2 separate regions of the Homo sapiens genome follow, and region 2 is linked to region 1. The links come from fine-mapping of genetic effects on gene expression. A gene starts in region 1. The other region holds a variant in brackets. All regions are shown on one strand. Distances are from middle to middle.

Region 1 (10,295 bases):
TCAGTAGGTGATAATCTCATTCTTCCTGTTACTCTGGAGTCATCTTTAGCTTCTCTCTTTCTCCCATGCTCTATACCTAAAATGTCATCAAATCCTACCCTCAAAAAAGTATCTAGAATCTGACCACTCTGACCACCTGTCATTATCTCAACTATTATCACTTTGGGGCAAGCCACCACCACCTCTAGCCTGGGTTATTGCAAAAGCCTCTGAACTGATAGTCTTGCTTCTTCCTTTGGTCTCCTACAATCTTCACATGACACCTAAAATGATTCTTGTTTAAAATGCTTGCATTTTGAACAAGAATCAGTCCAAATAGCAACAGTCCAAAAATGTATTTTAATGACAATTGACACAATATAAAAATATAAACCACTTAGGGATATGTCTAGTCAAAATATGCACTACTGCTATAAAGAAAATAGTAACATTGTATTTAAATACTTTAGAGAAGACCTAAATAAGTGGAGAGACAGACCACGTTTATGAATTGGAAAAGTCATTTTCATAAAGATATCACTTCTTTCCAAATTATATTTCCAGTCAAATCTGAACATAGTTTTTTTTTCTGTTGAAAGCCAATTCTGAAATTTATATGAATGAGTAAAATACCAAGAATTCTCAAGACAGGATGGAAGAAGAAAAGAATGGGGAGGCTCTTTCCAGATACCGAAATTTATTATAAACCTGTGGTTAACAATGTTGTCTAGCATTGTCAAAGGGTTAGACAAATTGACAGAATAGAGAACCAGGAAAGACCCCCATGCACATGACAACTCAACTCACAACAGAGCTATCATGGATCAGTGACTAAAGAATGGCCTATTAGGCCGGGTGTGGTGGCTCATGCCTGTAATCCCAGCACTTTGGGAGGCCGAGGTGGGTGGATCACCTGAGGTCAGGAGTTCAAGACCAGCCTGACCAACACAGTGAAACCCCATCCCTACTAAAAAACCCAAAAATTAGACAGATGTGGTGGCGCACGCCAGTAGTCCCAGCTACTGGAGAGGCTGAGGCAGAGGAATCGCTTGAACCTGGGAGGTGGAGGTTGCAGTGAGCTGAGATCGCACCACCGCACTCCAGCCTGGGTGACAGAACAAGAATCTGTCTCAAAAAAAAAAAAAAAAAATTAGCCAGGTGTGGTGGCATGTACCTGTAATCTCAGCTACTAGGGAGGCTGAGGCAGGATAATTGCTTGAACCTGGGAGGTGGAGGTTGCAGTGAGCCAAGATCATGCCATTGCACTCCAGCCTGGGTGACAGAGCAAGACTCCATCTCAAAAAAAAAAAAAAAAAAAAAGAATGGCCTATTAAATAAATGGTGCCAAGACTCTTGGTTATCCATATGGGAAAAGCAGAATAAAATAAAGTTTCTTCCCACCTCACGCCATACACAAAAGCCATTTCCAGGCAGACTAGAGACTTCAGTGTAAAAAGTAATATTATAACATTTTTTGAAAATAATATGAGAATAATTTTACAACCTTATAGTGGAGAATTTCTTAGATAACACATAACAAGTATAAATCATAAAGCGACAGGTGGATAAACTTATTTGAAACTAAGAAATTCAGTCATTAATAAAAACCACAGGAATATAAGGAGACAAGGCACCAACAAATGAAAAATATTTGTTATATATATAAATGACAAAAAGTAGTACCCAGAATATGTATTGAATTATGGCAAATCAATAGGATAAAAGACAGGTAACCCGATGAGAAATGGCCAAAAAATGTGAACAGGAAAAGGGACCCCAAATGGCCAATAAACATATGAAAAAGATGTCCAACCTTAGTAATTTGGTCAATGCAAATTAAAAACATGCTAAGATAGCTTTTCATTTCTACCAGATTGGCAGAAATACAGTACCAGACAATATCAAATGCTGATGAAGAAGTGGAGCAACAGAAACTTTGGTGCATTGCTGAGGGGTGGGTAAAATGAGGCAAAAACTTTGGAAAACAACGTGGTGACATCCAGTAAGGCTGACGATATGTACAACCTATGACCCACCAATTCTATTTCTAGAGTATATACCCAAGATAAATTCTTGCACACATGCCCCAAGATGCATGTACAAAAATAGTTCTAGCGGCACTGCTTATAATAGAAAAAAAAATAAACTCTTGAAATACCTAAAATGCCATCAACAGCATCTCAGATAAATATATTGAGGTACACTCATCTAATAGAATACTGTACTGCAGAAAACTTTAATTATCTACAGGTACATGCAACAATATGAAGAAATTTCAGAAACAAACTTTTGAACCAATTAGGCAAATTTTAAAAGAATATTTAATTCCATGTTTACAGAGTTCAACAACTTGCAATCATACATATATAGCGATTTAAATATGGGATGTAAAATTAGAAAAAGAAGCAAGGGAACAATAAACCCAAAATTCTGGACTGTTGCTGCTTCTGAAGAGGGAAGGTGAAAGATGGGCATGAAGAGGACCTCAGAGATGATGCTGATCTTTAAAAAAATCTAAGGTGTCAGCACACAGGGTTTATGCTGTTTTTATTACTTCTATCTTATTATGGTCTTTCTAAATTTTCTTTTCTTTCCTTCTTTTTTTTTTTTTTTTTTGGAGATGGAGTTTCATCGTGTTGTCCAGACTGGTCTTGAACTCCTGACCTCAGGTGATCTGCCCCTCTCAGCCTCCCAAAGTGCTGAGATTACAGGCGTGAACCACTGCGCCTGGCCGAAATTTTCTTTTCTTTCAACACAGAAAATCTTTCCAAGTTCATGAAAGAATAGCCCATGTGCTCAGGATGGACAGACAGGAAGGGCCTCCCTGACCTGACCCTGTTCCCTACCTCTCTGGCCAGAACCCCAGGCATGCCCCTTACCCGGCTCTGCCACACCAACCTCCACGAGGTCTCCTCCTCCAGACCCTTATCAAGAACACTTCTCAGAAACCCACAGGACTCGGCCTCCCTCACAGGTCCCCTCTCAGAAGACTAGAGCCATCCCCACCCTCCCAAGACCCCCACCCTACCTGCTATTCTCCCACCTGCTGAGCACCGTAGACCCCTGTCCGCTTTGACCAGAGCCTGGCAGGGCGTGGTTTCTCAATACCTATTTGTTAAATAACTAAATGAATGACTATACATAAACTCATATTAAAATTAGTGTGCTCCATGGAAAGGGTAATGCATAGAGCCCTTAGTTATCAAACCAGCCCCCCCACACTTTAGATGAGTTGGGACAAAGGATCGGTTTAGTGTTCTAGAAGTTTCATTTCAGGGGAAAAGAAGAATCAGTCCTTACTGAGCAGGTGGCCCTGCTTAGGCAGAAAATGCAGGCGTTTCAATGGTTTGCTGTAATAATTCAGATGAGGGAAGTGAGCCCAGGGAGGCACCTACTTACCAGAACCCAGTGGAGTAATGACAGGGCCGGGATAGACCAGCTCCCTCTGAGGCCCGTTGGAAATGGCCCTCCAACTCTGCACTCCTCAGAGGCCTATGAGGGAGCTTGGAGGGCGAGCCTCACTGTCCTGTCGGCCTGCTCTCTCCGCCCCCTCGACAACCAGGAAAGCCCGTGTCAGCCCTTCCCAGGGTTCCCTTCATAGCAGGACCCCGAGAAAGGACTTGACCTACCGTCAGAGGTCGAGGAGTGCTGCTGGAGCCCAGCCTGACTCCCAAACTTCAGCAGTGACACACACTCAGGCAGACCCAGGCCCTGGAGTGGCCCTGACCACATGGGCCCCCCACGCCACACACACTTCCTGCTCCCCAGCTCACCTCCTCTCCCACATTCACAAACCCAAACCAGGCACTGGGTCACATGTGCCCCATAGTCAGCCTCCCAGGAGGCAGCCAGTAGGCCCCACGCTGACAGGCGGCGCCCATATGCCCACCTCTAGGCTGGCCTGGCTGGGCCAAGAGCAAGGTGGCCTACCTGGAGGGGTGGCCGTCAGCGCCTGTAGACATCAGAAGGCATGGGCCCCCTATCCCCAGCTGCAGCCCCTCAGGCTCGGGGGAAGAGGACCCGGCCCCACATCGTCAGTCCTCAGCGCCGTTTCACTCTGAATCACTGGAGCTGGGTCTCTGCTCATTTCCTGGAGAAAGCAGAAGTGGAGAGCCGGCAGATGCCTGACTCTGCCCACTCTCCAGCCGACCACGGAGCTGCTGGAGTTCTGGCGGGTGACTTGGGTTCTGCAGCAAGGCCCCTTGGGGCTGGCTGTGCAGCCTCCGTGGTCAAGCGGTGCTGGTTGGGGCCAAGGACAAAATGGAAAGTACAGCCCAGCCCTAGAAGAGTAGGTCTGGATTCTGTGTCCCCTCTTCACTAGCCGTGTGACCACTGGTGCACACCTCTCCTCTCTGGGCCTCTGGCAAAATGAGAACAATGATGGTGTTAGGTGAATCTAATCAGAGGTGTGTTTAAGTGCACCCCTGGACATGGCATGGGTTGGGCAGCCCTCACCCCACCAAGCTCAGAGTTGCCCACTTGGATTTCTTCCTCCCCCATCCTCAGATAGAACTTGAACCACCAATGAGGGGAGTCCTCCTGCGGCCAACACTGAGGCAAGGATGAGAGGACATCTAAAACCATAGAATGGAAGTCTCTGAAACTCAGACTCCAAATTCTCATTCCTCTGAGTATATAAACTAGGCTGAATTATCCATGTCACCTATCCATAACGTCATCTCCACAGTACAAACAAGCATGTCCATTCACACACAATCCTGCTTGTGCTCTGTAAAAGGAGAATTTTGCCAAAGAGCAAGGGCACTTGTTAGCGCTAATGCCTGATCCTTGATCCTCAGTGCAGCTCATCGCTTGTCTCTAGCTCACAAAACCAGTGGACCATGCATGACTGACTGAGAGGCAGCAACAACATCACTTGTTATGACATGGAGTAAAGCTCCAAGATTGGTTTAAAGAGGAAAATAACATTTGTCACAAAACCTCAACCTCCACCAGTGCAAACTTGTCAGTAGACAGCAGCCAAAATAGGAGATCTATCCAGCTGCACTCCAGTCTGGACAGCAAGAGCGAAGCTCCGTCTCAAAAAAAAAAAAAAGAAAAAAAAGAAAAGAAAAGAGAAATTGAAAGGATACATGCAGTGCCAGCCAAGGGAAAGAGAAAACCTTAGAGAATTTGCAGTGAAGTGTTTGTTGTATATGATGAAAACCCCTCGTCATTGTCACCAATGAAATCATAAATAAAATCTACAAGAAGATATTGCCTGAAATCAGAGGCCTATGGTAAGAGCGGATTAGACAGAGGAACTTCCACAGAGGCAGGAAGGGTGGCCAGCATGGGACAGGCCAGGACCCCATGCCTGTGAATGCCCAGAGGAAGCGCGGAGAGTCTGTCATAGTGGGATCTCGCAAAGTCTGCTGGAGGGCCCACCTGCACCCAGGTCTCCTACCTTCTACCCACCCCAGCACCTTGCCGGGTAGCCAGCAGCAGGCAGGTAAAGAGCACTAAATTCAGAGCTAGAAACTCAAGGTTGAAATTCTCACTATCTTAACTGAGATAATTGACATCTTATTTGCAGAATGAATGAATGCCTTGTTAGAAGGAACAAATCAAATAATATTTGCAAGAGAGGTTTTTTTTTTTTGAGACGGAGTCTCGCTGTCGCCCAGGCTGGAGTGCAGTGACGCGATCTCGGCTCACTGCAGGCTCCGCCCCCCGGGGTTCACGCCATTCTCCTGCCTCAGCCTCCTGAGTAGCTGGGACTACAGGCGCCCACCACCTCGCCTGGCTAATTTTTTGTATTTTTAGTAGAGACGGGGTTTCACCGTGTTAGACAGGATGGTCTCGATCTCCCGACCTCGTGATCCGCCCATCTCGGCCTCCCAGAGTGCTGGGATTACAGGCGTAAGCCAGCGCACCCGGCCAAGAGAGTTTTTAAATACTGAAAAGGGCTGTGCAAATGCAAGCTATTATTAGTGAGAGAGTTGCCAAAGCTAAGACACTGAAGCAGCCAGGGCAACTATGAACTGCTAATGTAAATGTGTATTTTTGTTAAAGGGCAATGTAAGATTCTCTGATTTTTAAACAATTGCCCCAAAATGGCAGTTTTACTTCTGCACCCAGTTATGGTGGTGTAACTGGTATAGGACATACCCTCCCATTGAAAGCAACTATAGAATAGTTCAAATACACAAGATAATTGTTTTCAGGCATTGAATAGCAAGACTGTGATCCTTGAGATAAGGAAAACACACAAGGTGAGCCCCACAATTGCCCTGGAGTTTTTTCTAGTGATGCTTTTTCTGCTATGATGCAGGCAGGTGGGGCCCCAGAGACAGTAGTCTCCCTGAACTGAAAAGGTTTAAGTCAGAGTTCAAAGCTGCTGAAGGCTCTGGTATGTTCAGGGCAGGTTCCTGAGGAGAGTGTGCCTTGTGGGAACTCATTGTGTGTGCCCTTGGCCAAGGATTCCTATGTGTGCACAGGGTGAGACTCCAAGAGACCCAGCAGAGGTCAACTGACCCAAGGCCGAGCACTGAAGGAGGTAACAGAGAATGTGCAGTGCTTGGAATGTTGCAGTCGCATCCCATGGAGTGTGGAGAGACCTTGCTGAGCATTGTGGGACTTCACTTTACACCTCAGAGCCCTCACCCCACCAAGCTCAGAGCTGCCCTCTTGTATTCCTTCCTCCCCAATCCGCAGACCAAACTTGAAACACCAATCAGAGGAGTCCTCCTGCAGGCTAAACATGAAGGTAATGATGAGAGGAAATTTAAAACCATAAAACTCTGAAGCTCAGACTCCACACTGAAGAAGTAAGAACCACAGCCTAGAATAAAAGCCATAAAGTTGGAACAAGTTCAAAATTGAAATAAAATAGCTCCATGTGATAAGTTACTTTTATGAGTTAACTTGACTGGGCCATGAGGTGCCCAAACATTTGGCGAGACATTATTCTGGGCATGTCTGTGAGGGTATTTTTGGATGAGATGAACATTCGAATCAGTAGGCTGAGTCAAGCAGACTGTTCTCCCTAATATGCATGGGTGGTTTCCAATCGGTTGAAGACCTGAATAGAACAGAAGGCTGAGTAAGAGGACACTTTGGCTGCTTGACTCCTTGAGATGGAACATCAGTCATCTCCTGCCCTTGGACTGGAACACTTACAACACTGGCTCTTCTGATTCTCAGGCCTTTGAACTCAGACTGGACCTTACACCATTGGCTCTTCTGGGTCTCCAGTTTGTTGACTGAAGATCTTAAGACTTCTCATCCTCTATAATCATATGAGCCAATTCCTTGTAATACATAAAGAAATAAACAAACAAGAGCAGGCATGTATATATATAGATATATACACACATATACATATATATATATATATATATATATGTATATCCAATTGGTTCTGTCTCTCTGGAGGACCCTAATACAACCAAACAAAGAATAAAAGAAGCAAGACTGACAGAATTAAAAGGATATTCCAGTAATTTTTTTTGAGACGGTCTGGCTCTGTCCTCCAGGCTGGAGGGCAGTGGGGTGATCTCGGCTCACTGCAACCTCCACCTCCTGGCTTCAAGCAATTCTCATGCCTCAGCCTCCCAAGTAGCTGGGATTATAAACACGTGCCACCATGCCCAGCTGATTTTTTGTGCTTTTAATAGAGACACTGTTTCACCGTGTTGGCCAGGCTGGTCTCAAACTAATGAGCTCAAGCGATCCCATCACCTCAGCCTCCCAAAGTGCTGAGATTACAGGTGTGAGCCACTGCAGCCAAGGAATTTAACTGCCAACCAGAACAAAACTCAAGATGCTTTAAAGGAAGAAAACTTAATGCAGCCTCCTTTCAATTTAACATCCATGCTATCTAGCATAGAGTTAAAATTAGTAGAAATCTGAAAAAGCAAAAGAATGTAACCCATAACAAGAAATAAAAAACTGTCAATAGAAATAGACCCCAAGATGAACCAGATGTTGGAATTATTTCACAGGAACTTTAAAGCAGCTATCAGAAATATATTCAGGAACTTAAAAAAAAAGCAGGCAAATTTCAGCAAAAAAAAAAAAAATCGAAAATACAAGAAGATTCAAATGTAAATTCTAGAACTGAAAAGTATATCTGAAGTAAAAATTTTACTGATAGACCAACAGCAAATTGGTGGCCACAGGAAAAAAAGGGTTAATGAACTTAAAGACTTATTAATAAAAATTATACAATTTGAAGGACAGAGGGGGAAAATATTGATGAAAAAAAACAAACTCAGCTGCTCTTGGGACAATATGAAATGGTATAATATATGTGTAAATGGGGTCTCAGAGAGAGAGGAGGGCAGAAAAGCACATTTGCAGAAATGATGTTTGAAATTTCCCAGGTTTATTGAAAAACGGCAAATTGCAGACATGATAAATTTAGTAAAACTCAAGCATCACCAAGTGCAAAGAAAAAACACACTTAGCACATCATAGTCAAACATCAGAAACAAATGTATTATCTTAAAACAGTCAGAGAGCAAGAAAGCAGTCAGAAAGAAAAAAATATTACCCAAAGAGAAACAAAAATACTATTTAAGGCTGATGTTTTATCAGAAGCAGTGAATGCCATAAGAGAATAGAAAGACATCTTTAATATGCTAAAGGAAAACAACAAAAATTGTTAACCAATAATTCAATAGCCAATGAATGTCTCTGTAAAAATGAGAATAAAATACATTCATTTCAGGTGAATAAAAGCTGAGATCATTCATCTCCAGCATCCTTGCAATATAAGAAATTCTAAAGGCAGTTTTTGAAGCTGAAGGGAAAAGATGCCAGATGGAAACTTGGATCTATAGGAAAAAAAGAAAAGCACTATTAATAGCAAATGTGTGAGTAAATAAAAACAAACCATGTACTTTTCATTATTTTAACTTCTTTAAAAGACTATGACTGCTTAAAGTGAAAATTGCAGTGCTGTACTTTGGAGTTGATAGCATACGTGGATAGAATGTATTTCACAACTACAGCACCAAAGACTGAGAAATCAATGGAAGCATATTGTTGCAATCTCACATTTTACACAAAAATAGTATTTTATTTACTCTAAGTAAATTGTCATAAGGATATGTAATTTCTTCATGGCTTTGTGACAAAGATGTCAGAAAAGTAAAAGTTTAGTTCCAATCAACAAACACACACAGAGCATCTCCTCTGTGCCAGGTCCCAGGTAGGCCCTGAAGAAACAATGATGAACAGAGCAGAGCTGCTATGGAGTTTACTTCCTTGCTGCAGAGCAGTCTACACCAGTTGTTCAAGTTGGCAGGTGGTTCTCCCCCATATAGCAATTTAGGAATATTGCTCCATTGTCCCATATAGCCTTGTCGTCTGCATCCAGCCTGTAAAAAAGGAAAGGGAGTGGACAAGACAAGACATACCTCTGCCCATAAAGGCCCAGCCTCTGAGTGGTCTACATCGCTTTGGCTCACATGCTATTGTAACCACATGGCCATATCGAGCTGCAAGGAAGACTGGGAAGTGTAGACCAGCCATGGGCCAGCCTCGATCCTGTTATTAGAGAGAATGCATTTTGGTAGGCTGTCGGTCTCCACTATGATCTCTTCAGAGCACTTACCATCACTTATCAGGGCCATATACTAAAAAGTTAATACTTTTAAAAATAAATATTTTTCTGACTTTTAAAATGAAGCATGTTAATTCTAAATAGTATGTAAAAATAAAAAGAAGAAGGAATAAAATAAAACTCACTAATACCCTATGCTGAGCAATAGCATTTCAGTCTTTTTTTCCATGTTTACCAAAGTATATTTCTTTGGTCTTATTTTTTGTTCTTAACAAATGGGAATCATGCCATATATTCCCCTTCATAATTGGTTGGGTTTTTCTTTCACTTAATTCATTGCAAGCACTTCCCTACTTCATTATTACAATGTATTTTCTATACCATCTTGGGAGAAAAAAAGAAAACTATTTACACAGCAACAGGACATGTTTAACAAACCTGGAGAGAAAGCAGCTTCCTGTGTGCTGGTTGCATTTCCATATTCCCCAAGGGGATAGTAATTAACTCCAGAAAAAGAGAGAGGATCCCACCATCAGATTGTACTTTCAGGGAGATGTGAGTACTGGTGCAAATGGAAGATAAACCCACAGGACACCTGGAGCCTGCAGAAGAAATGATCAATACCACTGTTGACATCCCATGAGACTTGGAGGAAGGAGGGAGGATTGGAAAACTACAAATGAGCGAATTCTGTCATAATTTTCAAAGCTGGCCTGAAGATCCAACTCCATATTGGTAGAGTTAACATAAAACTCAAAAGGAGCCCACTGAGAAGATGAAGAACCATGAGCCATCACCAGGTGAA
Region 2 (10,295 bases), 93 kb before region 1:
GGAGGGCAAGGCAGGTGGATCGCCTGAGGTCAGGAGTTTCAGACCAGCCTGGCCAGCCTGGTGAAACCCCGTCTCTACTAAAAATACAAAAATTAGTGGGCATGGTGGTGGGCGCTTGTAATCCCACCTAGTCAGGAGGTTGAGAAAGGAGAATCGCTTGAATCCTGGAGGCAGTGGTTGCGGAGAGCTGAGATCGCACCATTGCACTCCAGCCTGGGCGACAAGAGCGAAATCCTATCTCAAAAAAACATATATATATATACACACACACACACATATATATATATACACACACACACATATATATATACACACACACACACACATATATATATATTTGGTCATCACTGCCTTTTTTTGATAACAGAACTTTACCAGCAGATGGTATCAAATTCACCTATATGTGTCCCACAGAATTTGGGACTAAGAATTTGTTCTCATCTGATGACTCTTAACCTGGAACAACTTTGACCCCCAGGGTATATTTGGAAATGTCTGGAGATGTTACTGGTGGTCACAACTGGGCAAGGTCAGGGGAGGAACACTATGGCATTTAGGGGGAATCCAGAAACCCTGTGTATGTAAGGTTCTCCATTCTGGCTGCATATTAGAATCACCTAGAAAATTTTACAAACATTAGTAAGTTGTCAAATTACCTGACCCAGAGAGATTCTGATGTAATTATTCTGGGTGCAGCCTGTGCAAGAGAACTTTAAAAAGCCTTTGCAGGTGATTTTAAAATGCAGCCAGCTTGGGATGCTCTCCCTGGAACTTGTGTGAAAATCCAGCCCTACCTGCCTTCTATGGTCCTCCGGGCCCTCTCTTCTCTGACAATGGCTGCTGGCGCCTGCCAGCTCCACCTTTTCCCAGCTTTCTCTTATACCTGGGGTGTCTCTAAATGACAGCCATGAGATGCTTCCTCCAGCTATACATTTGCATTCTATTACCTTCCTCATGGTTCTTGCTCTAAATCTGACGACACGTGTTGGTGTCTGCCCACTCTAGTGTCCTGCTCCTCCGTGTGGTGCAAAGATGAGCTGCGTTGGCCTCACCTGGGAGCTTCTTGGAAAAGTCATACCTTAGGCCCTGCCCAGACCTCCCTGAGGAGTTTGCCCCTCAAAATGAGAAGCTTTGCTTTGTTCATTCTGGAGTTTTCTATTTTCATGAACATGACTATTCTTAGAGACCTGGATGCATGTCTTGCCTTCTGCCCTGGTAGCGTGACCTTCAATGCATTTTCTAAAGATGTCCTTTTCATGTCTGAACTCAGCCAAGTTTCCTGAACAGTAAGGCAGATTTCATTAGATGCCAACCCTACCAGTAATAAACAAACAAACAAACAACAACAAAAACATAGAATGAAACCGAGGCCACTTCAGGGTAGTAGCAGGAGGTATGGTTGTGGGGCAAGTGCAGCTTGGAGGAGCCATCTCACCTTGGCAGAGCCAATGACCTGTCCATCCAGACAGGTGGAAACTGTACAATGCCTTTTCATTTCCTTAGTGACAACCACAGCCAAGTGATGCCACTGACCACAAGCCAGGAGCTGGCCACACCTGACCTGAAGCTGGCATCCTGCAGAAGGCTCGGAGTCATCCTCAGGTTCCATGACATCTGGAAGACAGCATGAACACTGAGTCTCACGTGTGGTGCTACACTGCAGGAACCCAGGAGAATGGGGAGGGCATAGGCGGACGTCAACCACTGGGCCTTGTACCATGGAGCCCTAGATCCTCCTCTCATGAAAAATGACAACAGCAGCAGCAATAGCAGCAGTCATTCTTTGAGCTCTTCCTTTGTGCCAGTTTTAAGCATGTTACAAATATCAACTCATGTCATGTTCACAGCCCTGTGAGGTAGGCGCTCATACATGCCCAATTTACCATCCTGAGGCACAGAGAGGTTGGGTGACTTGCCCAAGGTCATACAGCCAGGATTCAAACCCAGAAGCCAGGCTTCAGGTCTATCCCAAGGTAGACTACCTCCACAGAGACTCCATTGTAGGCCGAGTCCCAGAGAGTTGGATAGGCAGTTGTGCTGTGTACAAGGGTGTCAGCCGCTTCCACTGTTTCATAGGGCCTCCCAATGTTTTTCCCTATGAAACAGTGACACTCTCAGGACACAGGAGAAGAACAAGTGGACAGAATCCACTGGACTTGACCATCTCAGGCAAATGAGCCTGGAGAACAACGCTGGGCTCCAAAGGGCAGAGCCAGGGCTGGCCTCTAGCACTGCCAAAGGAGGGGTGGCCCTGGGCGCCATGCCAAGCATGGGCCAGCCTTCTGGGTTTGGGGTTGAGCATATGTGGGAGCGCCTATATGTCTGTAGCTGCTTCGGCTCCAGCTAAATTGTGTGTGTTCTTCACAAACCTCACTCAGGAGAGGATGCAGCCTGTGTCCCAGCAAGGCAAAGCCCTGGGTCCCATTGTGACTGTTCTGCCAGGGCGAAGTTTCTGAAAAGCCACTGAGCATCATCTCTGAAGCTGTGCCAAGGGCTGGGGCCTCATCTGCCTGACACTTACAAGCCTAGAGCCCAGGCCACAGTGAACCACAACAAATATTGTAGACCTTTCACCAGGTATGGAACCCAAGGGAGCAATTTCAAAGGATGAGGAGAAACAGAAGGTCACCAGGTTTCTAACCACACCTGTGTTGAGAGCTTCTGACTTAGCCCCATTTCCCCCACATGTGGATGAAACTGGCTTTGGATCCCAGCACCTTACCCAGAGGCTGAAACTCCTTCTCTTCTGTAGAAACAACCAAGGAGAGGTCGTCTGGGCAGAGGCTGACGGAGAAGCAAACAAAGGGTTGCTCAGTCCTGGCCAGGTGGCGCACCAACGTCAGGAAGCGCAGCGGGTGGCCCTCAGTGGCAGCTCCATGCCGGCTGATCAGGAACCAGCAGGAGAAGGTCAGACCTCCAGGAGGAGGGAACGGTCTGGTGGCACCTGGGTGGGAACACAGGCATGCCCTCAGGCTTTGTTCTGCCCTGCTGAGCATGCATGTTCAGATTCACTATGGTGCTGATTTAGCCCAGGTGCAGCACCTACTGGGTGTCTTGCCTAATCACCAGTTGTCTCCTCCCCATTATGGCATGCTGCCTTGCCAAGGGAGCAGAGAAGATCTCGATCTCCCTGAGGTCCGTCACACGTGGGCTCCTGGTCAGCTGATCTATAGCCAGGCAGTGTGCTCTGTGGGGCAGAGGACCTTGGCCTAGCTCAGCTGAACCTTGGATAGGAAAGGGCACCAATCTAGGAATGCCATGTGCCCTCCCATCACATAACAGGGTTGGCGATATAGACAGGTCCATTGTCCTCACAGAACAGGCAGGATCAGCTGCTGTGTCCTCAGACTTGGTGCCAACTCACATGGAAAAACGTCATGAAGGCAATGGCTCCCCAGCACCCATGATCCCATAGAAACCCCAAACCCAATTCTCCTAACAGAGCGTGTGGCTCAGGCAGCATCAGGCACTTGCACTGTCCCACCCAGCGTGTTTTCAGCTAAGTGCAGTGCTGTGCATAGAAGCCACTTGCCAAAGATTGGTCTATTCTCAACGGCCATCAGCCCAACTCATATTTCTCTCTAGAGAGAGATCTAAGGCAGGTAATGTGTCCATCTCAGCCTACATCAGTCACCAGCGAAATGAGCCAATTTTTCAATGTCAATTGAGTCCCTAGCTATAGGCTGGACCCTTGGGATGCACAATGAACAGAACATCTTGCTCTAAAAGAGGAGCAAAGTTGAAGAACAACTCATCTGCAGATACTCAGGACCAAGGCAAGACTCATGTTTGCTTTTCTTTTTTTGAAACTGGGTCTTACACTGTAGCCCAGGTTGGAGTGCAGTGGTTCAATCATAGTTCACTGCAGCCTGGAACTCCTGGCCTCAAACAATCCTCCTGTCTTGGCCTCCCAAATTGCAGTATTACAGGTGTGAGCCACCATGCCCAGCACAGCTCACACTTTATTGAAACACCAAGTAAAAATCTGCAATCAAGGCTATCTGAAGACTCATACTTTGGAAGGGATGGAGAGCTAAACCATCTGGGAAAAACACCTACCTGTCCCAATTCCTCCAGAGACAGAGTACTCAGTGCTGGTTCCCATAACTGTGGACAGGGTTGGAATAAACAAACAGCTGGAAATAGAAAATTGTCTCAGATCATTGGACTGCAAGCCAATCTCTTGCACTGACACAGCTAGTCTGGGCCATGACATCTTCCCACTCTACCCTCCTGCCGGCACTGTAACCCTCCTTAGACCATAAGGTCCCAAGGATGGACTGCAGCTGGTGCTGGTAGGATGCCTAAGGGAAGGAATTGCACTGCAGGCAGGATGGGAGGGTGTTCCAGAATGCAGCCACACCAGGGAAAAGAGGGTCTTGGCCCTCCATAGCTGGGGACACAGCCCCTGGGAGGCCGCTGAGTAGGCGGGTGTCCATGACCCAGACATTTTCCTCTGCTGAGTGGTGAGATTCAATGGGAACTACAAGTTTGCAATCAATATTATAATTCATCAGAGGCACTGCAAAATTAATAAAGTGCATTTTAAATATGTGAAAGCCTGTCATACCCATAACCTTCCACGGACATGTCAAATTCCACAAACGATGGGGCCAGGGCTGCCCTCTGAGGCTGCAGGTTGCGTGGGGAGGTCATGGAGATGAGGCTCAGCGCCGTCTGAAGAGCAGTAGTTGAATCCTGGGATTCCCCCAAGGGCTGCGGGGCCTGTGTGACTCCAGGGTGCAGCCCAGCATCTGGGGCAGCTGGCCAGGGCCCCTCAGCCAAGCCCTGTGCAGTCTGTGACCCTAGGGCAGCAAGCAAGAGAAGAGATGTGTCTCTGCTCAAAGCATTTCTGTCTCGCTTCTGACAATAACCCCAAAGTATCTGCCGCAGCCCAGAAAGAGAGTTTCGCACAGTCACCAGGTACTTCCTAAGCACCAGCGAGGGTGGCTCCCTGGCCCCCAGCCCGGGCCCCCTGCTGAGTCTGATAACAAGGAATGGTGTTGCTAACCTGCTCCTTCTAGAAACTTTTCTTTCATTCCAGCACAGATCCCTTTTCCAGCATAGCACATTCTACTGCTGCCACCTCTGTCTCTGGCTTGCCCCATTGGAGTTACTCACTGGAGCTTTGTGTCTGCTCACAAAGCCCACACTTTCCTTCACAGCAGCCTCTCCTTGTAAGCTCTGGGCTCCCACCGCAGCTGTCAGCCCCAAGCCTGATCCCGCACCCTTGCTTCTCCACTGGGCCTGCCTGTTTCCTTGAGGTCTTATGTGATCTTACATTCAAGATGTCCACGAGTTTCTTTTCTCTAAGCTGGTTCCCTGGCCAACATTCCCCAGGTACTAGGCCTGACACAGGGGTACCACCTGCATCTTGGGCCTCCAAGGCTCTGACATGCCCTTGAGCTGTGAGCTGTACAGAAGCCTTCCCTGCACACCTCTGTCTAGTGCAGCGCCACGTACTGCTGTGTCATGAAGGAAACTCTGTCTCTGCTTCCATGATCTGGAACCCAAAGGGATCATCTGTCTTATATGTCTGGGTGGGGGTTCATCTTTCTCCATCTGGATATGGTCTTTCTCCAGAGACCAGGAATTTCTTTGCTTTTTCCTCAGTTGCTGCATTGAGCAGCAGACAAAACCATGTTTAAACCTGTTTGCTTTCCCACCTGTTGTAAAGGATCCCTCAGCAGGAATGCCTATCATCTTTTACTTCCCATTAACCTGCCCCGTTCTTGCCACTGTCCTCACCTGAGCACCCAGGGTTGCCTCTGTGTGTGTGA[G/A]ATGAATCAAGGATTTTTGTTGTGGCCGACAGAGATGAGGGAATTCCAAGACCTAGAAACTGTCTGAACATAACATACAAGAGGAAAAAATGAAGACATTTTACTAGCAACAGTGTTCTCCAACTTTATCCTGACAACTGTCCTAGATGCCTGGAGCTCCCTGACCTCCCAGCCCCACTGGAACACCCTTTCTGAAAGCAATGTGGAGACAGGGTGTCTCTGCCCTGCCAGCCAGACCAGACCAGAGAGCTGGTAAGTTTAGGAGCCTCAAGATGGATGTCATAACAAAAAATAATGTCACAAAGTAAATTTGTAGTAATTGTTTATAAGTTTCTAATGGAATTTCCCATGCAGCACTATAACCAGCAGCCTCCTCTGGCAGCTGTCGTGCCCGCCCCTGGGTCCCATGTCTGCTGGCTGGAAAGGCTGTCTGTGCGCCCTCTACACTTGCTCCTGTGTATAAGCAGCAGGGCCCCCCGCTCTGTGCATGGCCCTCAGCACTCCAGGTGGCATAGGAGACTCCTGCCCTCCCCAGTAGCTTCCCTTCCCTCTGCTCTCTTGTCTTCCACGTCTGCTCCCTGCTTCCCACCCTGTGCACCTTTGCACTTTCTCTCCCTGCCATGGCTCTCCAGGAATGTGGCTTCATGTAGAGGCTGACAGCAGGAAAGCCCCCTGGAGGATCCAGGTGGGTTCTGCCCCATCCTCCTCCATGTCTGCAGTCCCTACATGCTTACTGCCCAACTCCCTACAGGACACAGTCAGCCCCTCCCAGCCCCACCCCTCCCGGCAGAGCCTTCCAGGCCCAGTTCCCTCCTCTCTTTGTCTAGTGAACTCTACAGGCCTCGGAATGCAGCTCCACTTCCTTGGAGCCCCCTCCAGCCCCCACGTGATCCATTAGAGGGGGCTATGTCTGCTTTGTGGGCACCTGCACACTGCCTGGCACAGACCCAAGGCTCAGCCATGGACTCCAGCCTTGAATGCCAGGACAGAGCCGTGCCCTCCATCTGTCCCTGCAGTCTCTCCACTGCCCATTGTGCAACCCCTGCCCTGCAAAGGACATGGCTGCCCAGCTTGGCGGCACTGAATATGCAGCATGTGGTACCTTAGCACATCCGGTTCAATGGCCTGGGAAGCGAGCTTCTCAAAGATCCTGATGAGGCGTGAGTGGAGGGGGCTGCCACTGGTGACCAGGGCCCTGTGGCAGGAGGCCATGAGGGTCCCAAGCAAGCCTGCTTCGCACATGACCTGGCGGTTCTTCTCCGACTTCACCAGGGACTGGATATGACTGGCCAGGGAGCACTGGATCTCCTCGGAAAGCTAAGAGTGACCAAAGCAAGCTGTGAGCCCTCCAGGGCAGAACACCTTGTGGACAGCTTTTATAGGCTCCAACTTGGCCTGGGGTGAGTTGTGGAACAAGGAGACTGCGCCCACCATACCCCATCCCCACTACACCCACGCCTGTCTCAGGGTTCTTCCAGTGCCCTCCTCACCTGGCGGGGGGCAAGTCTGTGGGAGGCAGCCTCTGGCAGGACACAAGCTGCCCAGGTCAGTGTGGGGAGAGGTCAATGGCTAAAGATGGAGGCCACATGCCAGCAGGCAGGAGGCTGCGTCTGCCTCTTAGACGTGCTGTGTTTGACCCACACAATATTTCAGCAGTTTCTGAATTAACTGCTAGCATTGAAAAGTCTGAAGATGTCACATAAAAATCCAGACTTGTGGCCTCTCTCAAAAGATGGGACGATCTGGCCATGCTGGCTTGCACCTCTGTGGGGGGAAGGTGGCTGGTGCTGGGTGGGAGCTGTGCCCTCCAGGGGTCCAACATCCCCCCCAGCTTGGCTTTACTCCCCTAACAGTTCCTGTGTTGGAGTTCGCACCCCCGGAGTAAAAGGTGGAATCTGCCTGGGAGTACAAGACTAAAAGAAGTACCACTTACCAAACATACACACTCTGCCTTGACAGATACAGGCCCCACCACAGACATCTCAAACCACACTCAAAGTCTGCAGGCCAACTAAAGTCTCTGGGGAGAAGCGTTTGCTGAAGCCACTCTCATCCCCTGGGTGCCATCTCCCTCCGCCCACCCTCCCATCATCCTGTGCCTGTCCCTCAGTCCTAAGCACATGCTGCCACATGAATAGCTGTGCTCTTATCTTAACCCTGAACTAGGTTTCCAGCTACTTCCCTCTGCTTATGTCCTTTGAAGCACATAGAAAAGAGTGCATAGACTGGGCTCAGTAAATATTTGAGCCTAATACCACACATTGCTTTTACAATCATTCTTTCATTGTAAAAGATAAATCTTTGGAATTATCCTTCCCAGGCTGGATAAAGGGTTTGGATTGGGTGGGATGTTCCTTTACAAAAACTCTTAGGACTGTCCACATTCTCTTTTGTTGCTGGATAAGATGTCGTATCAAGTGAGAGGGATACAGGTTAGATCTTAATGGAATTTTCCTTGTCCCAGTGGATGCTACTGTGCTCCATGCAGATCTCCTTCTCCAGATGAGAGGTATACCTGCCACGGCTTCCCCTTCTCTGCAGAACTGCCCTCCACAATGGTTGAACTAGTTTACAGTCCCACCAACAGTGTAAAAGTGTTCCTATTTCTCCACATCCTCTCCAGCACCTGTTGTTTCCTGACTTTTTAATGATTGCCATTCTAACTGGTGTGAGATGGTATCTCATTGTGGTTTTGATTTGCATTTCTCTGATGGCCAGTGATGATGAGCATTTTTTTCTCATGCTGCTATAAAGACACATGCACACGTATGTTTATTGCGGCATTATTCACAATAGCAAAGACTTGGAACCAACCCAAAAGTCCAACAATGATAGACTGGATTAAGAAAATGTGGCACATATACACCATGGAATACTATGCAGCCATAAAAAATGATGAGTTCATGTCCTTTGTAGGGACATGGATGAAATTGGAAATCACCATTCTCAGTAAACTATCGCAAGAACAAAAAACCAAACACCGCATATTCTCACTCATAGGTGGGAATTGAACAATGAGATCACATGGACACAGGAAGGGGAATAGCACACTCTGGGGACTGTGGTGGGGTGGGGGTAAGGGGGAGGGATAGCATTGGGAGATATACCTAATGCTAGATGACGAGTTAGTGGGTGCAGCGCACCAGCATGGCACATGTATACATATGTAACTAACCTGCACAATGTGCACATGTACCCTAAAACTTAAAGTATAATAAAAAAAAAAAAAAAGAAAATGCAAAAAAAAAAAAAAAAAAGAACTGCCCTCCACTAGGTAAGAGCTGCCCTGCCCAGGGGCCATGGAGCCCTACCCACCCAAATACACATACACACACACTTACATGCCCCCTACTTACATACACACGCACACGCGTCCATACACACAGGTACACGCACATGTGTCCACACACACATCCACACACACCATACATGCCTGTGTGCACACACACACATACTCCAGGCTGGAGCCAATGAGGCCAGTGCCCTCGGGACTGTGTTGTGCAATTCATGCCTCAGAATCCCAGGGGCTCCGGCTGAGACAAGACTTTGCTGTGAGCGCATCCTCCTTCAGCTCTTTCCCTGCCCGGCTTCCCTCACTCTCCTTCCCTCCCGAGTCCTTCCCTCAACAAATCCCACATACCTGGACCCCTGTCTCAGGCTCCACTCCCAGGGAACCCGACCTGAGGCACCAGCATTCTTTCCATGTTTTATACCTTTGCCGCAGTTTGTAGTTTCAAGAAAGGAGATCAATGGCCATGTAAATGAGTTCTAGACCACCAAAGTGAAGCCAGGAGAAGCTGTGAATGCACTACCTGAATAATCTCTTTCTAAGGAGGACTAGGGTCTGGTCTCTTCACATCACAGACCACCTGTTACACCACCCAGTAAGAGCTTTCTTGGAGTCCTCCCTGCTTCCTCTCTTCCTATTCTTTCTCAAACAAGAATGAAGTGGCTCTCAACATCAACTTCTGGGTAAAGCTCTAGGCGTTTAAAGATGAATAAGACACTGTCCCTGCTTTCAAGGGATTCACAGATTAAAGGTGATACACGTGGGCAGACACATTGTCCCAGCACAGTTTGAAACGTGCTCCAGCAGAGAATTTACAACATCGAGCACAGCAGATGGGGTGGTCCCTGCAGCCTCTCACACATTTCACAAGGCTCTTGAAGTTAGAAGGGACTCAAGGCCTGGCATCTACTGTGAGGGCCAAATTTTATCCTGGGATGAGAATATTTCCTGGGTATTTAGGCTGCAGCAGGCCCTTTTCTAAGCATTTTGACATGTATGGATTATGCAATCACTGTGAGAAGCCTGTGAGGGAGGCACAATTATCATACCCGTTTTACAGATGGGGAAGCTAAGCCCAGAGATGGAAATTGCCAAGAGCACATGACTCTTGCTCAGAGTCACCTCATTCCACCATCTCCTCTCCACGCGGGCAGTCATTTGAGGGGTTCCCTCCTAAAAATGGTCGAGTATGTTGCTAGCACTAAGTGACAGAAATAAGATAGTGT

The links. PIP is the estimated chance that this variant, and not a neighbour inherited with it, causes the effect.
Region 2: its variant is fine-mapped to the expression of WDFY4 in whole blood (TOPMed, PIP 0.93).

The regions. Positions count from the first base shown.
Region 1 is chr10:48,678,616-48,688,910 of GRCh38, reverse strand. It overlaps WDFY4 (WDFY family member 4), which reads right to left and starts at 4,038. Exons shown (of 62, transcript NM_001394531.1): 1 at 3,910-4,038. RefSeq lists enhancers at 3,248-3,788, 3,807-4,106, 5,037-5,116 and silencers at 4,767-4,816, 8,967-9,231.
Region 2 is chr10:48,771,260-48,781,554 of GRCh38, reverse strand. WDFY4 (WDFY family member 4) reads right to left here. Exons shown (of 62, transcript NM_001394531.1): 14 at 6,883-7,097; 15 at 5,749-5,843; 16 at 4,571-4,805; 17 at 4,060-4,136; 18 at 2,723-2,944; 19 at 1,436-1,614. Among named protein-coding and RNA genes, the nearest start is that of WDFY4, 92 kb to the right of the region's middle. The variant G/A (reference allele first, on the strand shown) is at 5,781.